Linked DNA regions of Homo sapiens. The protein of the gene in region 3 purifies or fractionates together with the protein of the main gene of each other region. This does not show direct contact. Each region holds a gene or a part of one and is shown on either strand. Other genes may lie near its edges.

Region 1 (7,090 bases), 4.5 Mb from region 3:
GGTGACACATGCCTGTGGTCCCAGCTACTTGAGAGGCTGAAGTGGGAGGGTCCCTTATGCCCCAGAAGTTGAGGTTGCAGTGAGCGGTGATTGCCCCACTGCACTCCAGCCTGACTGACACACCAAGACTGCGTCCCCCCCCCGCCCCCAAAAAAGGCTAGTAAGATACAAGAGATAATCTTAAATATACCTGTGAAGTCCTAGGAACTGTTAGTCTGATTTATTTAGGAGCCGAAGTAAAAATAATCTCTTTTGACAAATACAGAAAGCTTCCTCAAGTGATCGTTGACACTCCGGTGTGATTATTTCAAAGTACAGCAGTGGTACAATATTCTTCTCTAGAAGTTCATCTTAAAATTATTAGAAAGTCAATAGGGGCTGTGCACGAGGCTCGCGCCTGTAATCCCAGCACTTTGGAAGGCTGAGGGATCACTTCAGGCCAGGAGTTCTAGACCAGCCTGGCCAGCATGGCAAAACCCCATCTCTACTAGAAATACAAAAATTAGCAGTGCATGGCTGCATGCACCTGTAATCCCAGTTACTCGGGAGGCTGAGGCAGGAGGATCCCTCGAACCCCGGAGGTGGAGGTTGCAGTGAACAGAGACGGCACCACTGCGCTCCAGTCTGGGCGACAGACTGAGCCTCTGTCTCAAAACAAAAATAAAACAAAAAAAGGAAGTCAATGGGAAAAACTGATTCAACTAACACTTTACCCATAACTTCAAGTCTGTATTCTGATGCTCATAGTCAGGTTAACTGACTCAGATCATTTCAAACCTGTACATTTCACTTCGCATTAGAGCTGGAGAGAGATGTTTAAGGCATAAATTTTAAGACTCATGAAATTACAGGTTATCACAATAAAAATGAATGTCAACTGAAGCCACAAGTAAGCAGTTTGTTTCAGAAAGAGAAAAATACCACTTGCTTGGCACTTCTATTTACAAAAATAAATCCTCCTGTGTTAACAAATAGTTACTTAATACACAAAGGCCCCGACCAACATTACACCCGTTAAAAATATTGTAACTTAACACCATCTATTAGTGCTCCTTTTCTAAGTAAATTTCATGATCTTAAGAGTACCCTAAAATCAGACTAACAAAATCTTTCCTTCTCCAGTGCACTTCTGCCACATCATGACTTCTAAACATTACGGTTAAGAAAATTTTATAGATTACGTTTTAAAATAACATCGTTACTTCTTCATGCACTTCAAGTGAGAATTTTTAACCTAAAAATACATGAAAATTATTTAGTCCACCTTGTAAAGGATGAATGTGGACAACTCTAGACTTCAAAGATGGAGAGATCGAAATAATTTCAGGGGTTAAGAAAACAATGGATACAGAATTTACAAAGTGAAGATCACACACTCACGATGTACAAGAACGAACTGATCACCCGCATGTTTTATTATTCTTTGGAAAAAAACTTTATATATATTAAAAACAAAAATAACTTTCTGCAAAGTGCTATCGTGCATGAAAACACACATCCCACTTATCATTTCCAGCAAACACTGTTCCCAAACTTAAGATCGGCTCTCGTTTCTGAAAATCAACACTTTACTTCCAAGAGCCACTCAACACAAAGACCAGTCACCATCTGTTTCCACCAAAGTCAACCTCTATTTTAAAAATCACAGTTGGCCATCACGCCTACCTCTCCGCAAACAAACGCTTGGCACATTCAAGAATCAGCGATTTTTTTTTTTTTTTTTTTGCTGTCGCCCAGGCTGGAGTGCAGTGGCGCGATCTCGACTCACTGCAACCAGCCTCCACCTCCTGGGCTCAAGCGATCCTCCCGCCTCAGCCTCCCGAATAGCTGGGATTACAGGCACCCGCCGTCACACCCTGCTAATTAAAAAAAATTTTTTGTGTGTGGAGACGGGGCCTCACTATGTTGCCCAGGCTGGTCTCTAACTCCTGGGCTCAAGCAATCCTCCCGCTTCAGCCTCCCGAGTAGCTGTGGCCACAGGCGTGAGCCACCACGCCCGGCTTGAGTTAGTGATTTCTGAGGTGCCCCGTTCACCTGACAAAAATTCTGCATTTATTAACAAGTTCATTAATACGCACGACATTCTGGTTAATTTTAGTTGCATTTTCAGAAACTGGTCTGAAAATGGTCCTTTTCGGACGTCGCTCTCGCTAGTCCACTCGGGAAATGCTAGAGTGGCAGGAACTCCCCAGTGGAGCGCAGGCGACCCCGACCAACCTCCTGCTTGGCTCAGGGGGCTACGTTTCCCCGCCCGTCCGCACCCGAGCCCCCCACGCCCGGGATCTGGGCAGCCGGCCGGGGGCGTGAGGCGGAGGTGGAAGGGGCAGGCGAGGGCAGCCCAACGCCCCGGGCCCTGAACCGATGGGCCGGCCGCCTAGGTGGACGCCGGAGCCGGACCCACAGCCCCGCAGGCCCCCGGTGGGCCGCGCCGGGCCAGGGGCGGACGGGACCGGGGCGGGCAGGAAAGCGGCGGCCCGTCCCAGCCCCGCGCTCCCGCACTCGCCCCCGCGGCGCCCTCACCTTCTCGCACAGCGTCCGCACTTGGTTCTCGTTCAGCTGCTTACACTCGTTCAGCTGCTCGACCCACTGGTCCAGCTCCTTGGTGAACGCCTTGTCGTCCATGGCGGCCCGATCCCGATGCGGATCCCGAGCCCCAGCCCGGCCGCCGCCCTCCCCCCTCCCCACCCGCCCCCGGCCCCGGCCCGGGCGCCGCTCCCCTCTCCCTCCGCCGCCGTCGCCAGGTCCCACAGGGGGAGGACTGAGCCGGGTAGGGCGGCCGCGGGCCCCGCGCCCCGCCCAAGCCCAGCAGGCGGCTCCGAGCGCGCAGCCTGGAGGAGACCCCCGCCCGCCCTTCCCCGCCCGGCCGCGCGCCGCGGGAGTCGGTGAAGGACGCGGTGAGGTGCCGGGGAGCGCGGCGCGGGTCCTCGGCCTAGCTCTCGCCGGACGAAGGCCGCCCGCTGCCGCTTCAGGCCCGCCTCACGCCTACCGGCCTCTCCCGACTTGTCTTTCCCCTTCTCTCGCTCTTTCTCTCCCCTCCCTCCGGGTTTCCGTCATCGCTCGGGCATTTCCGCCGGGAAAAGGCGAGCAGGCGGCGCCGCCGGGACACGGCGCCCTAGGAGCAGAACAGCGCCCTCGCGTGGCTTGGCGGAGAAACGGTCCGAGGAGGCCAGGGTCCCTCTTTTCCCCACCCTGCCCCAGACCAAGCTCTGCTGGTTCTCCCTTTAAATATCCTGATCTCTGGGAACTTTGTCCTCACTTTAGCTTCCTGCAGTACTTTGCAGCGCTCTGGACAGGGAGTTGGAAAACTTGGGCTTCCCTTAACATTGTCTCCCCAGAGTCTAGCACTCAATAGCAGGCATTCAATATTGATGGAGTAAATTAATTATTTCCAGCCTCACCTGTAGCCCCTAACATCTCGAATCCTCCCTTTCGACATTAGAAAAGTGAAATGATTGTTCTGTAGGATAATCTGTGGCCCTTCCAGCTCCAGAGCTCTTGGCTATATTTTCTGCAATGTGTACTGAGTTGTAATGATTTGTTCATTCAACAAATATTTATTGAGAGACAGAACAGGGACCCCTCTTAGGGGCCATCTAGGCACCCCCCTCCCCAAGCATGGAAATAAAGGAAAATCTTGAGTTCCCTGAAGGGACATTCCAGGCACCTAACTTCCTCAATAAGTCAATGAGCAACCTGATAAGCAAGAAGGTAATAATAGCTTAAGACAGTAGCCAAGGACGTTAGATTCACAAAATGTTTGCTTCCCTATAGAAACTAAAGACGACATATGTCCCTGAGTTGTTTTTCAGAAACCTGGACCTCACCAAATGGAAAATGGTGTCCACTGGCATGGAGATCTCAAACTACCTATCTTTGTTCTAAATTTCTTCCTGAGGAGCCTGGAAGAATTCACAAAGCTTTGCCTCCTTAACCAATTGCAAATCAGAAAATCTTTGAATCCATCTATGACCTGTGGGTCCCTGCTTCAGATATCCTGGCTTTTTAGATCAAACCCACGTATAGCCTCCATGTATTGATTTATGACTTTGCCTGTAACCTCTGCCTCCCTGCCTTTAAAAATCCTTACCTGGGCTGGGCGCAGTGGCTCATGCCTGTAATCCCAGCACTTTGGGAGGCCGAGGCCAGGAGTTGGAGACCAGCCTGCCAACATGGTGAAACCCCTTCTCTACTAAAAATACAAAAACTAGCTGGGCATGGTGGTGGGCGCCTGTAATCCCGGCTACTTGGGAGGCTGAGGCAGATGAATCACTTGAAATCGGGAGGTGGAGGTTGCAGTGAGCCGAAATCTCGCCATTGCACTCCAGCATGGGTGACAAGAGTGAAACTCTGTTTCAAAAAAAAAAAAAAAAGCACACAAAAAACCCCTTACCTGTAAACCATCAGGGAGTTGGGGTCTTAAGCATGAGCTGCCTGATTCTTCTTGCTTGGTGCAATGCAATAAATGCCTCACTTTCACTACAAACCCCAATGTCAGTGTTTGGCTTTGCCGTACTTGAGGGAGGACCTAAATTCAGTTAGGTAACATGAGCAGCTGCTAGCTGCCAGATACCTTGAATAGCATGTGCTAAATGATCATACTGTGTCTATTAAAGGTACATACTACTGCGGCTGAACCCAAGTGGAAGGTAACATCCTGTATCAGAAAGCAAGGGTTCTTGTGTTTGCTAACCCCCTAGCTATGTCCTTGGGCAATCATCAAACCTCCGTAAGCCTCAAATTCTTCATCTGTTAAAATCAATAAAAGGCCTACCTTTGTGAAGATTAAGTTTTAAAAGTGCCTGCCCAATAGTACGGTATGGGAGCGATATGTTAGTTGCCTTACCCCTCCTAGGGAACAATTACAGAAAGCTTTAGAAAAGCGGTAATTGAACTGAATTTTCAACCTTCTCTCAAGGCAAAAGCTTGAAGTTGCCTGGAGAAGAGGAAAGAAGGTCTAAGGAATTTTTTTGTGCGTGTGCCAGTAGACAAATGAGTGAAAGACCATTCATTGTCTGTTTGGAAAGCTATAAATTCTCCTAGCAACAGAAATAGATTATATTGTTGGAAATAAGGCTGGAAGAGCTCCTGCTCTCAACAGCTTGTAAATAGCAGCAAACCAGTTGAACAAAACACAAAAGGTGATGAAACAATACTGGTGAGATATCATTGCAATAGATATTACATTCTCTGAGGAGGTTAGTCTATAAGGCTTTAAAGGAGGCTGGGCCAGGTGCAGTGGCTCACACCTGTAATCCTAGCCCTTAGGAGGCTGAGGTGGGAGGATCACTTGAGCTCAGGAGTTCAAGACCAGCCTGGGCAATATGGTGAAACCCTGTCTCTACGGAAAATTAGCCGGGCATGGTGGCGCATGCCTGTAGTCCCAGCTACTCAGGAGGCTGAGGTGGGAGGATCATTTGAGCCCAGGAGGCGGAAGTTGCAGTGAGCCAAGATTGCACCACCGTAACTCCAGCCTGGGCAACAAGTGAGATCCTGTCTCAATACATACATAAAAAAGGAAGCTGATTTTCGGCTAAGCTTGGAAAGCTCGGAACAAAAGTGAGAATGAGAATATGTTCAGGGTTCCTAGAGAAGATGGACTGAAAACAAAATATACCCTGAGGGCAAGTGGGAACTGTGGATGGTAGTTAGGGAGGGAGGTCCTTGAAATAGAAGCAAATGTGTTTGAAATGAATGTGAGAGAATATTCTTAGAGGTGAGTAGGTGTTTGTGAAAATAGTACTTCTAAGAAGTTTAGTCAAGTAGTGATGTAGAACAAAGAAGAATACTTTCTTTGAGTAGTTCCTATATACTAATGTTTTTACATGTAGCTTCTCATTTAATGCTCCAGTAACCTCATGAGGCTGGTGTTATTATACTTTCCATATTACAGATGAAAAGAAAGACAGGTAGAGGTTTAAATACATGTTCAAGTCACACAGATAGTACTGGTGGGGTACAGATTAACACTCACATATGAGTTCTACTCCATGCTTTATGTTCTATGGTCCCTGCAGTGTGGATGGGAACATGGAAAGCCCAAGAATGGTAGATTGGCCAAGGGGCTTGATGACTTACAATATCAGTTTTTGCTATTTTGGTTGTGACGGTCTCTTAATTATAAATAAGAACAATAATTCTTTTTTTTTTTTTTTTTTGAGATAGGGTCTCACTCTGCCACCCAGACTGGAGCACAGTGGTACGATCTTGGCTCACTGCAACCTCCACCTCCCAGGCTCAAGCGATTCTCCTGCCTCAGCCTCCCAAGTAGCTGGGATTACAGGTGCATGCCACTACCACCCGGCTAATTTTTGTATTTTTAGTAAAGACAGGGTTTCAACATGTGGGCCAGTCTGGAAGAACAATAATTCTTAAACTTATTTCTTTTTTGCTTTCTGCTTCTGTCAGACGTGTGTGTTTGTGTGTGTGTCTGTGTGTGTGTGTTCTCCTTCAGAACATAACCATCAACCTCCAATCCTTGCTAAATTACTTGTCATGCCAAACTGCATTTAATCTTAGGTTTATAGGCCAGATCTAATTTTCTTTTTTGACCTAGAGGTTTTCTTATTGTTATTCTGTTTACCTCTCTCCTTTTGGTTAAATAATTAAAAAGAAATCTTCCACAGATTATTTGCCTTAAAAGTACATGTGAGATTTTCTTCCTACTTAATTGACTAGGCTCTTTTAAAATATATAAACATTGATATTTTTCCTAATGTATTATATACCATTTAAAATATGAAATATGAATCATTTATATCTTGTAATGTATCCACATAATTATATGCTACAATTATACATTGTATGGGTCTAAAAATGATTCTCCTATATCACTGTAATCCTCAAATGATTAAAGAAATACTTTCATTTCCAGTTCAAATACCTTCTGATACTTAGAATGTGAATATGATATTATCAAAATTGTCACAGGGAATTCTGCATAAGAATATCTATTGATAATGATTACAAAAATTAAAATTAATATAGAAAAAATCAAATTGGAAATGCTTTCTTTGCATTTAAAAACAACAAATCATGATCAATAAAAAGATCATAGTTCTCATCCTCTATTCTCACCCTTCTGCCCAAAAAC
Region 2 (7,081 bases), on a different chromosome or scaffold from region 3:
AATACACAATGGGTCTCACAGTCAAGAGACCCAAGTCCTAGTCCTTAACGGCCCTACCGCTAAGCTTCTAGGGTACCTTAGGAATATCTGAGTCTCAGTTCCCTCATTTATTAATACATTCCCTTATAGAATACAGAACTCTCTGAATATTGGGTTCCTCAACTACATGAAGTGGTGAAATGAGACCATGTCTATGCTTTCTCTCAGCTTTATGATTCTAAGGAGAAAGAGAATCTATATTATTACTACCATGAGACTTAGATGAAGCCTGCTTATATACCAATAAAGTAGAAAAGAAAGATACGGGAAAATAAGCCATTTGAGGACCACACAAATATTCGCCAATATATGCTCTTCTCTTCACAATACTATCATAAAGAAAGGCCTTTCTAAAGAACTTTCTTTTCCAGGATAAGCAGTTAACCTAAACCAAGAAGACCAAAGCATCTTTTTAAAAAGGTAAGTTGTCCAGGCACAGTAGCTCACTCCTATAATCCCAGTACTTTGGGAAGCCAAGTGGGGCAGATCACTTAAGGCCAGGAGTTTAAGACCAGCCTGGCCAACATGGCGAAATCCCCTCTCTACTAAAAATACAAAAATTAGCCGGGCGTGGTGGTGCATGCCTGTAATCCCAGCTACTTGGGAGGCTGAGGCACAAGAATCACTTGAGCCCGGGAGGTGGAAGTTGCAGTGAGCCGAGATTGTGCCACTGCACTCTAGCCTGGGCAACAGAGTGAGACTCTGTCTCTAAAAAAAAATAAAATGAAAAGTAATAAAAAATAAAAACGATAAATTACTAACAATTATACAATCTTCTAATCAGCAGATTTTCCTTTTTTTTTCTCTCAGTATCTTCATTCAGTTCTTCAATCTTCAGAGAACTTGTTTCTCCAAGATGAGAAGCTGAGCTCTAATTAAGCTTATCTAAGGAATGTATAATTATTAAAAATCTGATTTTCTTATGTATTTGTATAGAAGGGTGCTGGTATACTGAAAAATCAAATTTATTTTAAGAAAGGCAGCAACTAAGATATTTAACAACAATTAATGTTACATTAATATTAAACTCCAGGTTAGTTTTCCCAAATAATGTTATGGGTCAGTTTCCAAATTCTCTTTATTCATGTTATAGTCCAACTTTTCTGTCTTCCAAAGCCAAAACAATCTTCACTTTACCTTCTATGTAGCCTTCTACCTCTATTGTGCGTCTATCTCTCTATCTCCTCCTGCTAAAGTTTTCTCATTTTTCTACTGCGTATCATAGCAGGTCTCCACTCAATTCTTAGTTTCCTTCCCTGGTTTTTCCACCCATTTTTCCCATTCCTTTACCCCACTGTTTTATAGGATTCTCCTTTCTTTTCATCCCTAGGACTTACTGTCACAGTACTGCATCTCCTACTCTCGCCTCCTTTTTGATAAGTTTTTACACATATTACTTCTTCAGAACCTAAGGTTTCTCTTCTGTAGTCCTTTTTCAAAGAATATCTACCAATTCATCTCTAGAATCCCAAATATACTCTGGAGCCCTCATACCTAAGTATCTTTCCTACTCCTTTTCTCTTTACAGTCACTAATTCCCAGAATCCTGTTTGAAACTACAAATATCCCCTCAAAACCAAATGCCTATTCAATTCTCTCCACTTTCCAGCAATTACTTCTCCCATGTTCACCTCATTCTTTCTCCTCGGCCCAAGTATCCCCTAACCTGGCACAAGCCATTTAACGATCTAAAATTCCAAAACCTATCTCTTCTACATGGCTCTCCTTCCTTTCCAGCAAACTATTTCTCGAACTCCCAATGCTTCACTAATTCAAAGTCTTAGGCCAGTACGTCGCTTCCCTCAGATCTACTAGCCCAGCAAAAACTGATTGCCCAAATCTTCCTCTAAGCTTCCCAGACCTTACAACTGCAGCACTTCCATTCACCAAACCGTATTTATAGTCATCTCTCAATCTTTAGAGCCTATGGTCACTCTGTAAATTCTTCAGTTCTCTCCTTCTTCTCTCTCCCTTATCCTGTCCAGCTTCTCACTCTGTAAATTCTTCAGTCCTCTCCTTCTTCTCTCTCCCTTATCCTGTCCAGCTTCTCAGCACATTCCTACTACCCTTAACAATCTTCGTGGCTATGTTCTCCACCTTACCTTAGGCCTACTCCCTAAACTTTCTCATTCTCCCTTAAGAGACCTAATCTCACCTCTCATTCGCTGAATCTGTCTTTACACCTCTGGGAATTCTCTAGAATCGTCTGCTTCCTAGTTCTCCTCTTTCCTTCTCCAGCCCTGTCTCGAGTGTTTTCTACCCCCCTCAGCTTTTCTAGTATCTAGTTCTCACAGTGCAGATATTAGAACTCTGATAATATCTACTCCTCCCAAACCTTTCCTTAGTTGTTGGCCCAATTCCCCTCAACTTTTCTCTCAGTCATTCCCCACTTCCCTCCACCTTCCCTGGCCGATTCTCCTCCACCTTTGTCACCGTTCTACTCCCTTTTCTAAGCCTCCTTTATTGTGGAAGTGATTCTCAGATCCCTTATGTTAGTCTCTCAGCTTCCCCAACCTTTGCCTCATTCCCCTCTCCCTTCAACAACGTTATTTTTCCTCCAATTTCTATTGACTTGGCGCCTCCCCTAGTACCCCAATCTGCCTTCTACTCCATCTAAATATCTCCAGGCCGCCAACATTTTCTCCTATCAGTAGACTCCTTTCCCGTGCCTCTATGAACGCCCAGAGATACCATTCTCCAACGGCTGGGGCCTGGCCCATAGGGAGAAGGGGTATGGGTCACGTACCCCATTCGCATCTTGGCTCCGCTCTGACTGCCCCCGCTGCCGGGTAGAGGTGGGCGAGAGGGAAGGCGGCCGAGGTGCATGCTCTTTTCGAGGGCCGACATCGAGGGGAGGCTGCACGCACGTAGTCAAACAGTAGGCGAAGCTTCGTCCCACGTTGAGTGTGGCCCAACCGGTCACGACTCGCTCCCCTAACGACGCCCTGTCGCCTTTGGACAGCACCCAGCTACCCGTAGCACCGCCTACCGCCCACCGGCTCCGTAAACTCCACCCACTCGCTTCAGCGCTTCCACCGGAAGTGCGCAACAGCACTCATACAAAGGAAGCTGGGTAACAGAGTATGAGAACTCCGCAGACTCCCGGCTGGGAACCCGACGACTTTCACCGGAAGGAGGAGCGCTCTTCAGGGCAATGCACCCTGCGCAATGGAGTCCACAAAGGGCGCATCCCTATGCGCTTGCGCAGCTGGAGGCGCCCCCCAGCCAACCCCGGAGAGGTATTGTAGCAAAGCGTCCTGGGTATTGTAGTGTATTGGAGGGAAGGCGTCTTGGCGCCTTCTCTTCGCACCGTTTTCCGGAGACTGTTAGAGGAAGAGTCGCTTTTTCCTGCCTCCCAGGCTGCCCAGCGGCGCCGGTTGCCGGGGAACGCAGGCGCCGTGGGGAGGGATGGCGGGAGGATACTGCTTAGGTGCTGGAGACGGAGTTGAGCTGGTGAAGAAGAGCTCGGGCTCATCATGAAACAACGAAAAGGCCAAGGGTCTGGGGGCAGCCGTGGGCGCAAAAAAAGAGGTAACCTGAGCGATCAAAGATTGAGGAAAGCGTAATAGGAGAGCAGGGTGTAAGGAATTTTAGGGAGACCCGCACCCCCGCTGGATAAACAAGAAAAGGGACGTAAGAAGGAAGTAGCCAGGGAACCAGAAGGTTAAAAGGAAGGGCAATTGGCCCTCCAGAGAATAGAAAGGAATTAGGGGCTGGGGTAGGGGCCACAGACAGGCGATTAATGAGATGAAGGTTACCGGTAGGATGACTGTAGAGGAGAAGAACAAACAATGATGGGATTGGTTTTGATAACGAAGTGAAATGTATGTGTGTGTGTAGCTTTCGAGGTCCACAGGGACAGGAAGAAACATAAATTGGCAAAGGGATTATATCATTTGTTGTGTGATTGTGGGCAAGAATCACGTTTTATACATTACTGAATGACCAAGGATTAGTACAAAGCAGGACTCGGTAAATGTTAGTTGAATGAATGAAGTATGAAGGGCTGACTATGAGCAGGAGTTGGGAAAAATAATTGTAGAGTATAGAGCCGGGAAGAGTGGGGAATGACAGGTGTGATAGGATTGGAGTGGGGGTAAGGGCATGACGATCTCCTGAAGGACCTGAGATCATGAAAGAGTGTGCAGCAGAGAGTCCTCATCAGGTTAGCAGCTCAAGGAGACACAAGCTCACCGAGTAGGGGATGTTAGCTGCAGTGAGAACAGTCAACCTAGGAACCCAGGGCAGATCAGGAAACTTGACATTGAATCTCTACAAGACTGCCTCGAAGGGAAAAAGGACAGTGGGTGACCCTGCCTTTTTGCATTGTAGGCAGTTTAGCGAGAAAAGAAGTATTGGGAACAGTGATAGGACATTAGGCCATTGGGTTGAGGACTGAAGCTACAATCTGGGAATTACTCTTATCCAAGCTGTTTAAAGATTACTAAGGCAGTTTTGAGATACTGACTTTCCTGCCAGGAAAGATAGGAGGATCTGAGACTGAAGCATACTAGTGCTCCCTGTGTCAAAACAGTTAAGCATGTTTGGTTGATAATCGGAAAGTCAAAGTAGAAATAATATAACATAGCATAGAACAGAATACACTTTTTGCTATACCATTTCCATATGTAGAAATGTATACACAACTGTGTATAATTTTTATGTTGAAACTATCCATAAGGATTATGGTGGGTCTTTTCTCCACTATAGAGGGCAGAGGCGGTGTTTGCATTAGAAGTCCAAATAATTAGTCCTGATCTGATACATTCCATATATTTTCTTCTTTGAGGCATAACCACTCCTCAAAGAAAAGTCAAAGGAAAAAAAAGGTATAAATAATATAGGAATGGTTTCTTAAATCTCCTTTAAGTTTTCCCGAAAAGGTACTATGAATGAAAGACAATCAGGGTCATTAAAGGAAAATTTTTTAGAAAGTCATGATTAATTGCTTTGTTTACACTTTAATGTCTTTATGAAACCCAATAAATACTAAAGCCAATAAATATATGAACCCAGCACTGTGTTAAAAATAGTGGCAGAATCTGAAGATTAGATAGTCTGTGTCCTCACTGACTGTGTGATCTTGGCAGGAAAGAAAAGTTACAATTTAAGACGTTCTTCATTGAAATGCTGAGTTGTATGATATAGTCTAAATCGTTTGTGAGTGAAGGGAGTTGTTGCTGTTTTATCGTTAGTGATTTTTTTAAAAGAGAGTTAGATAAAGATTACATATCTTAAAAACCATAGATGTTGCAATAATTAAAACAACTGTACTTAGAAAAATTTCAACCATACTTAGAAAAATGTCAACTACTTCTGATATTTGTATTTTTCAAATAGTAACTCAACTAAAGAAAAGTTTATATTAGTGTGTCTTTGTTGGTATGTTCTTAACTTAGAGTAAATCAAATCAAACCTTAAATACTAATTAGTTATCAGAGTGGCTTACATGACCAGATAGATTATTCGGTGGTCTGATTTGATAGTTACTTCTCATGTATTAGAATAATGGGTAGGATAAACCTTCTTTCTAAGTGGTGATAAATTGCTGAACTTAAGACTAAAGTGTTCTGTTTGTTTTCATTCAAAAAGCATATTATATGTTTTCTATATTTAGTCTAAATTTTGACTCAGTTTTCTTGGATTCCTCTACAGGTTTAAGTGACATTTCTCCATCTACAAGCCTGCCACCTCTGGTTGAAGGCCAGCTACGCTGTTTTCTAAAACTTACTGTTAATAGAGTCATATGGAAGATTGCAAAGCCTCCCACTTGTGTACTTGTCCGAGTGAGATGGTGGGGAGAAACATCAGATGGAACCCTCTTTTGTCCCAGGGATGCATTGCAGACTGAACCAAAAGCTGTGAGAACAACTACACGTTACGCTATTCGTTGTGGTCCAAAACAGTTTACCTCTTATCTAACAGGTATGTTATTGTTTTATCATTGCACCTGCAGACGTAATACAAAGCATGTGGTTATATTGTCAGCAATAAGTGTTGTTGTGTACCTAGCATATATGGGCATTCTTAATTATTGAAGAGTCAAAGAGTTTTTATAGTAGACATTTTTCTTTGTAAATTTATTGAGTGTTACTGTGTGCCAGCAGTTTTGAAATGTATTACTTCTAATCCTTACAATAACCCTGAAAGATAGGTATTTTCTCTGTTTTATAGACAATTAAACAAGTTGGAGAGATGAAATGAATACTTTCTAAGGTCACAAAGTTGATAAATGGCTGAATTAGGATTTGAACCCACTTCTGTCTGTCACCAAAACTCATGCTCTTTTCACTACACCATGCTTTTTTAGGTAATAACTGTAGTCTCAACTCTGGGGTTTACATTATACTCAAGGAAAGAGGATATAGATGTAAAATTTACCAATAGTACAAGATAATACATACTAAATGCTAAATGAATGGTTTAGTGAGTTAGTATTACAGATGTTCAGAAATGGAAAGCATCCCTCTGTAGGGAACCAGAAGCCAAGATGTCTTCATTTTTGTACAAGAAAAGTATTCTGAGTGTACTATGTTACTTCTTTATTCAGGTCAAGCTTTCACATAAATACATTTTGGATGATGGGGTTATTTATCAAGTCAATTCAGTTCAAGTCAATAAAATTCGAGCATTTATCATGTAAACATGGTTGGGCTCAGAATATTGGAGAGCCAGGGGTGAGTTAAGATTAACTTGTCCTTGAGTAACTTACATTCTCTCGAGAAAAAATTTTTGAAACATCAACATGTAAAGAACAAATGCTGTAATTCAGTCATTCAAAAAATATGTTTAGCACATACTACACATTGTTTTAGGCACCATGGGGTTTACAAAAAATCCAAAAAATTAATAAGAATGATCCCGAACTCTAACTTCACAAAAAAGTTTAGTTATTAATAGTAGGTTAAAAGCAGTAAGTGCGATTAAAAGATATAAATAATCTTGGTACTGTAAGCTTAAAAATTAAATCCTCAGGTAGTATTTTTATATAATATAACAAATGAGGAGTGATTAGAAATTCAATAAGAGAGAAGGTATTTAT
Region 3 (7,025 bases):
GTGCTGTCCCTCACCCTGTTCCAGGCTGTGTACTTCATTCTCTTCTGTTTGATGTAGTGGACACGGATAAACAGTAGTGGCTGGCTGATAAGAGAATCAAGAACTGACATCCAACAACGGATAGGCAACTCCTAAAGCCATCTGCTAAGGCTTTCAAGCCCTTTCTTTTAGCTGAAGACAACAGTTATCTGCCAAAAGGCAGAACACCAGTCCATTTGACTTGGCACACCAAATTTAATCTCTAGTTCAACTACTCCCACAACCTGAGCAGGTGCACCTCTACTAAGGACTGGCCACTTTCTCCAATCCTCTTCCTGCCCAGACCTCAATGAAGGGTGCTCTTCCATCCTCACTTTAAATGTACATAGTGGCAGAAAAAAAAACAATGTCAATACTGAACCAAATGGGTAGCAAAATCACACTTTAACTGCAAAACTCAAGAGACAACACAACCTATGTAAGTATATATACATTTAACATAAGGAAGAGCAACATACTCATAGATCTCTGAGGGAAAAGGCCTAATGGTGAACAAACACCATACAGGGATTAAAACCTAGTAACAAAATCCTTCTCTATAAACACTTCAAAGTAAACAGGGTATATGCTCATTGAAAGAAAAAACTCAAATACCTGGTATGTTTCCACAGGCCTGTTTTCCATATTTAAGTCCCAAATTTTGACTGACAAATAGTCTCTAGTCATCATATATCGACCACTATGGCTGAATTTTACATCCGAAATAGAGGAGATGATTTCGGAAAAAAATGACCTGTTACTGGGATCTTCAGGTTCTTCAAACACTAAAAACAAAACAAAACAACACAAAAAGGGCAAGGTGTACAATATTCTGGCTTGGACAAAGCATTTCCTAAACAACCATTCACAAACTCCCTACAAGTGAGGTAAAATGCCAGGCTAATAAAGAACTGAAAAACATCTCTCTGGCTAGAATTCTCCTGAAAGCTTCTTAGTTTAATTGAATATTGAAGTTGAAGATGCATAAGTATGCAGTATACTTCCAGTCATATGACTAATTTAGAACCAGACTCACCTGGGACTTCTGACTTCAGTGCACCAGGTTTATTGGTATTATTCCTGCAATATGCCTCACTGACTGCCTGTATCATCACCATGAGAAACACACCATCCTCGCCCATCCCAAATTCATACCAGGATCTTATTTTCTAGTAGCCAGGTAAAATTATTTTGGTAACAGGCATGTATCAATTTTCATGAGTTAATATTCAACAAGACAAGAATATTGTATCCTGAAGTTTTTAAACCAAAGTTGTTTTTTTTTTTTTTTTTTTAAGCCAAGGAAACCTCAGAAGAAATCTTCCTAGGAAGCTCAAAGTAGGAAGGGAGGATGGGAAAGAAAGGAACAGCTCTACTTCAATACAAGGTTACAGAGCCCAACCGCAAGTTACCAAAGAACAACAGCATTCCATGAGAGATATATTCCTTGGCAATCAATAGACATGCCCCCCAAGAGAGCTTCCAGGAATAACCTGGAATGCCTCATGAGGAGGTAGGCAGATTACCAAGGGTACAAGTGGCTCTGGACACACGGGTTTAAGACTTTGAACCTCTGTAATTGTACTTATCATGTCTGAGGCTTATTTCAGACAAACAGAATATGTAATCATTTTAAGGAAAGATACAATAAACTTACATTTAGAATGTCTATCACAGAGGGCAGATGCCCTCATGTCACATAGCCGAATAGTTCCTTTACTGCTGCTGTATACAAATGTGTTACAGCTGTTTGGATGAAATTCTGCTGCTGTAATCACCTCTGTTAGCTCTTCCATATTGGCAGGCTTGATATCCACAATGTCTAGATAACATTTTATTAAGGAATTTCCACTTAGAAAAAAGGGCAAATATAATTCTACATTTCTCAAACCTAAAACCCATTCATGGACCTAAGCAAAAATATTAATTCTGAATTGCACTCCACTGTTTTTATGAGTATAAATTCCAAAGGGATTAAAACTTTTTTTTTTAATTTTTATTTAGACGGAGTTTCACTCTGTCACCCAGGCTGGAGTGCAGTGGCGCAATCTCGGCTCACTGCAGCCTCCGACTCCCAGGTTCAAGCGATTCTACTGCATCAGTCTCCAGAAAAGCTGGGATTACAGGCGCACACCACTACAACTGACTAATTTTTTTTTTTTTTTGTATTTTTAGTAGAGACGGGGTTTCACTATGTTGGCCAGGCTGGTCTCGACCTCCTGACCTCATGATCCATCCGCCTCGCCTCAGCCTCCCAAAGTGCTGGGATTACAGGCATGAGTCACTGTGCCCGGCCTCAATAGAATATTTTTATTTACCCAATCATGCATCATGACTTGCGTGAATTTCTTTTTCTAATCTTAATCTAATCGTAATCTTTAATCTTTCTTTTTCTAATCTTTTTCTAATCTAATCTAATTATTAATCTTTTTCTAATCTTAAAATTAATCTTAATCTAATCTTAAGATTAATCTTAATCTAATCTTAATCTAATCTTAATATCAATTAATATAATATATATAAATCTATATATATATATTTTTTGAGACAGAGTTTCACTCTTGTTGCCCAGGCTGGAGTGCAATGGCACAATCTCAGCTCACTGCAACCTCTATCTCCCAGGTTCAAGCAATTCTCCTAACTCAGCCTCCCATGTAGCTTAGATTACAGGCATGCGCCACCATGCCCGGCTAATGTTTTGTATTTTTAGGAGAGACGGGGTTTCACTATGTTGGCCAGGCTGGTTTTGAACTACTGACCTTAGGTGATCCACCCACCTTGACCTCCCAAAGTGCTGGGATTACAGGCTGAGTCACCGCAGCCAGGTGAGACTATTTTTACAATAAAAAATTCAAATACAGTAGTTCATACATTTGATTAGAAGAAAAAAAATTTTTTTAGAGACAGGGTGTTGCTCTGTCATCCAAGCTGGAGTGCAGAGGCACAATCAAGCTCACTGTAAACCTTGAACTCCTGGCCTCAAGTGATCTTCCCACCTCAGCCTCCCAAACCGCTGGGATTACAGGCATAAGCTACCATACACAGACCTCACAAATGTGATTTTTAAAACAAAAACCTAAATTATAAAAAATAATCCTATTTACATAGATACAATAGACAAATTCCTTAAAATTCCATGAATCCAATTTTAAATCAATACATTATGCCCTTTATGTTTAGCAAATAACTTTTTCCAGTATTTCATTACTCATCTACAAAGAAAAAAATAAGGTGCCATACATATATGTACACAGACTATAAAAAGCAACCAAATTCATTAGGAGAGATGAAATAAATCTAATATGGGCACAACATGCCTTCTTCACCAAACACCAAAGAAAACCAAATGGATACTAAAACTCCTGTCTGTAATTTCCAGATGCCAAAGATTAATCCGCAAATCATCTGCAGATAAATATGTTTCATAATCACTATTAATAGAAATTGAGTTGATGTGATATGTATGAGCATTGGCAAATATTCTTCGTGGACTGGCCTCAACCATTAGATCCATAGGCCTAAAGACTGGCACCTGTCAATAAGACACATGAAAAACAGAAATTACAAAAGGCTCAGTTTCAAATAGCAATTAAGATTCAGAAAACTTCATTATTTCAGTTTTTGAGAACATAAAATAGAACAATATTACATAGATTTAGTTTTAAAAAGCAACTGATGTTGATCCTTTCGAGTGCTGAAGAAAAAATGAACAATGTGGATAATATATCTTCTTTTACTGGTTGCAATACTATTAGAATTTGCAGTTCTTAGTTTCAATATTTTGCTTGAAAGACATGCCAAGCTAATAAATGTTTATGGTTCAGATTAAAGAGGCTAAAAAGAAAATTAACCCATAACATCTAATTCTTGGTATTTTTTAGCTACAACTAGAAGATTTGATCTGTATCTACTTTTTTGATTTCCAAAGAAAATTTATCTTGAAACTTGACCTTGTGATAGCTAACATGACAAACCAGAGATGAAGTCTGATGGCGTGAAATACTGTCTTGTGCTTGAGTCCTGCTTCTGTCCCTGGCCAAAGTGAGACCTCTATGTAGGTCAGTTTCTATGTTTAAATGAGTTACTCAATGTCCTACCTGATTACAGAATTACTGGGAAAGGGGAGATAGACTGTAATTATTCCTATTCAAGCTCTGCTCAGGATTTGGGCTATATAATATGAATACAAGCACTATCTGTGACATTTTTTTCTTATGTACTTACTCGTAGTGTAGTAACTGTAGTAGGATCTCTATACCTTCCATCCTCCTCTTTCAAGTTATACCCTTCTGGTCTTTTGTCCCTTTCACTGATTTTCCATAATTTTATTGTTTTATCTGGGAAGAAAATAAAGAAAAGTCCTTAAAATACTGAAGAAGAAAAACATTTTAAGGCATTTAAAATATGCTATTTCACATTTCACGTAAAAGGATTCCACGAAAAAAAAAAAAACCCTAATCTGAACTTACTAAAAAATTTCCTATTATCAGCTGAATAACATACACACATGGAAATAAAGTGCAAAGATTGGTGGCACTCATAAATTCCATGTGATAGTCAAATCAAGTCACAGACAGGTCTCTATCCCTGTCCCTTAAAAGTAATTAAAGCTAGAGGGAAAAACTTGATATGCATGTGTGGTGTATGCAAACACATATATGTCTGTACCTACATGTAAACATATACATGTTCAGTACTGAATTTTAAAAAATTTAAAGGGAACAATGAAGTTGATTAAGACTGCCTATTATGTAGAATCAAAATAGTAAAGCTGCTCTCCCTTGCTCCCACTTCTTAGCAGAGCCTATCAAAGATTCCACAGAGGCCTCCATAGGACTGGATGCCTCCTTTTTAAAACCTTTCCCCTTCTTGTATCAGGGTTCACAAGTAGGAAACAGGGCCTGAAGAAAACTGATTAAAAGCATACATCCCCAAGTCCTTCAAGAAGAAACCAAATTCCTAGGTATCAAGGATATATAAAATGGCATCTGTTTAAAAACAAACTTTTGTTTTACAATTAAGTTTAGATTTACAGAAAGTTACAAGAATTGCAGTGTTCCATATATCCTTTACCCAGTTTCTTCTGTCAACATCTTACGCAACCATGGTACGTGTGTCAAAACTAAGACGTCGACTTTGTATATTACTATTAACTACAGACTGCATTTGGAGATTTAACCAGGTTTTCCACTAACATTCCTTTTCTGCTCCAGAATTCAAACAACACTGCATTTAGTCATCAAGTTTCCTTAGTCTCTCTGCCTTTAAGTTTCTCAGGCTCTCCTTATTTTTCTTGATCTTGACAGTTTTGAGTAGTGGTGGTGAGGTACTTTGTAGAATATCCCTCAACTGGATTTGCTTGCTCTTTCCTCATGATCAGACTGGGACCATGGGTTTTTAGGAACAGAACAGAGAGATGAAGTGACTTCTCACAGCATTGTTCAAAGGGATACATGGTATCAACATGACTTACAGCTGGTGGCGTTAACTTGGGTCATTTGGTTAAGACAATGTTTGCCAGGCTTCTCCACTATACAATGACTCTTTCACCCTTGCCATATTCTGTTCTTTGGAAGTGAGTCACTAAATCCAGCCTGTACTTAAAGGGAGAAATAAGTTATACTCCCTGTAGGGAAGAGTATGTATCCACGTCTTATTTAGAATTCTCCTGCAGGAAGCATCCCTGCTCTCCATGTATCCATTCAATTGTTTATTTGTATCACTATAGGCTCATGCATGTTGATTTAAAACTGTTACAATTGTATAACAGTTTTTCTTATAGAAAAGCATACATTCCTAACGATCTTTCATAAGCAAAATGGTGTAACAAAATTGTTTATAACAGTATATAAAGCCATTTTATAAAAACAGAAACAACTCAGAGAGATGCCAGTGACTCTAGCCTGGCAGTCTCTGTATCGTACAGAAGAATGATAGTTGCCCCTAAGGATGCCCTTCCCAATGATGAAGTGTAAACAGAGAAAAACTGCTAACTTTAATCATCTGTAATCTATTATTTCTTCTAAGCCCTATGTGACCTTGCTTATAATTTTCTTGTAGTTCAGTCATACAGATTTTCTATGTGTTATTTAGTTTATATATGTATATGATTTATAGATAGATATGAGCCTAGCCTAAATCTGTATTCTGAGAAGTATTTGTTCTAAATACTTGCAAAGTATTTGTGATGAGGATGACAACACCCCCGCCCCCTGGTCCAGTTGTCTTGTGGCCTGTTTAAATCCATCCTCCTTATTAAAGATCCAAATAAAGAAACCACAATGTATTTATGAAACTTTCAGATGAGATAAAATTAGTTTGTGGTGCCTAATAGTGTTTACAGGAAGAAAGCTCTTTAAAAAATGTTTTTTCCTTAACACAAACACAGGACACATATGAATTAGGATACATTTTTCAGTAAGGTGGGGACAAGGCAGGCAGGAAATAAATCAGTATGTTAATAAATATGACATAAATTTTTAAAAAATCAGAATCCTTATGTTCTACAGCAGTGATATTTTATTACCTGGAGTTTTTGGCCCATAAGACAAAGTATGTGAGAATAATCAAACTCCATAAAACTGTATGTGAGATTATGTAAAAACACAGTTTTCAGTGGAGACGTTATTAGATTCTCAAGATCTGTTCCTTCCAAAACGACCACACTGTGGTGTTCCCCTGAATTATCAACACTAATAACTAAAGCATTGGAGAAACTGCAGAAGAACAGAGTTCCTCTCACCACAAGCAGAAGGTATGAGAGGTATGAGCAGGGAAAACCACGCTGCCGTTTCCTTTGTGGGAATGCAGCTTTATGTAAGACCCTAAAAAACTTATCAAGAAGTTGTTAAGACACACCCTATTTATGAGTGAACTTTACATTATTCATATATGTAACACTCATGGTTGACAGGTCAGTTTCATGTTTTCTGCAATGTAGAGGAATTAATGAGAATTCAGAGGAGCAAAAGAAGATTAAAGAGAAAGAGAATTAAAATGCTTGAAGG

Evidence for each region. Proteins that work in one complex are often made in the same cells at the same time.
Region 1: the proteins of PPP2R2A (region 3) and PPP2CB purify together in Homo sapiens (affinity purification with mass spectrometry; 10 studies listed by BioGRID and IntAct, with this or other methods). This does not show direct contact.
Region 2: the proteins of PPP2R2A (region 3) and PPME1 purify together in Homo sapiens (affinity purification with mass spectrometry; 3 studies listed by BioGRID and IntAct, with this or other methods). This does not show direct contact.

The regions. Positions count from the first base shown.
Region 1 is NC_000008.11:30,809,800-30,816,889, forward strand, and holds the start of PPP2CB (serine/threonine-protein phosphatase 2A catalytic subunit beta isoform), read right to left. Parts: upstream 3,020-7,090; 5' UTR 2,623-3,019; coding exon 2,521-2,622; intron 1-2,520.
Region 2 is NC_000011.10:74,167,227-74,174,307, reverse strand, and holds the start of PPME1 (protein phosphatase methylesterase 1), read right to left. Parts: upstream 3,020-7,081; 5' UTR 2,887-3,019; coding exon 2,786-2,886; intron 1-2,785. Other genes in the region: C2CD3 (C2 domain-containing protein 3), read left to right, coding at 3,516-3,570, 5,695-5,964. UniProt on the Homo sapiens protein: Demethylates proteins that have been reversibly carboxymethylated. Demethylates PPP2CB (in vitro) and PPP2CA. Binding to PPP2CA displaces the manganese ion and inactivates the enzyme.
Region 3 is NC_000008.11:26,357,499-26,364,523, reverse strand, and holds part of PPP2R2A (serine/threonine-protein phosphatase 2A 55 kDa regulatory subunit B alpha isoform), read right to left. Parts: intron 4,356-7,025; coding exon 4,243-4,355; intron 3,551-4,242; coding exon 3,373-3,550; intron 1,841-3,372; coding exon 1,676-1,840; intron 804-1,675; coding exon 634-803; intron 1-633. UniProt on the Homo sapiens protein: Substrate-recognition subunit of protein phosphatase 2A (PP2A) that plays a key role in cell cycle by controlling mitosis entry and exit. Involved in chromosome clustering during late mitosis by mediating dephosphorylation of MKI67.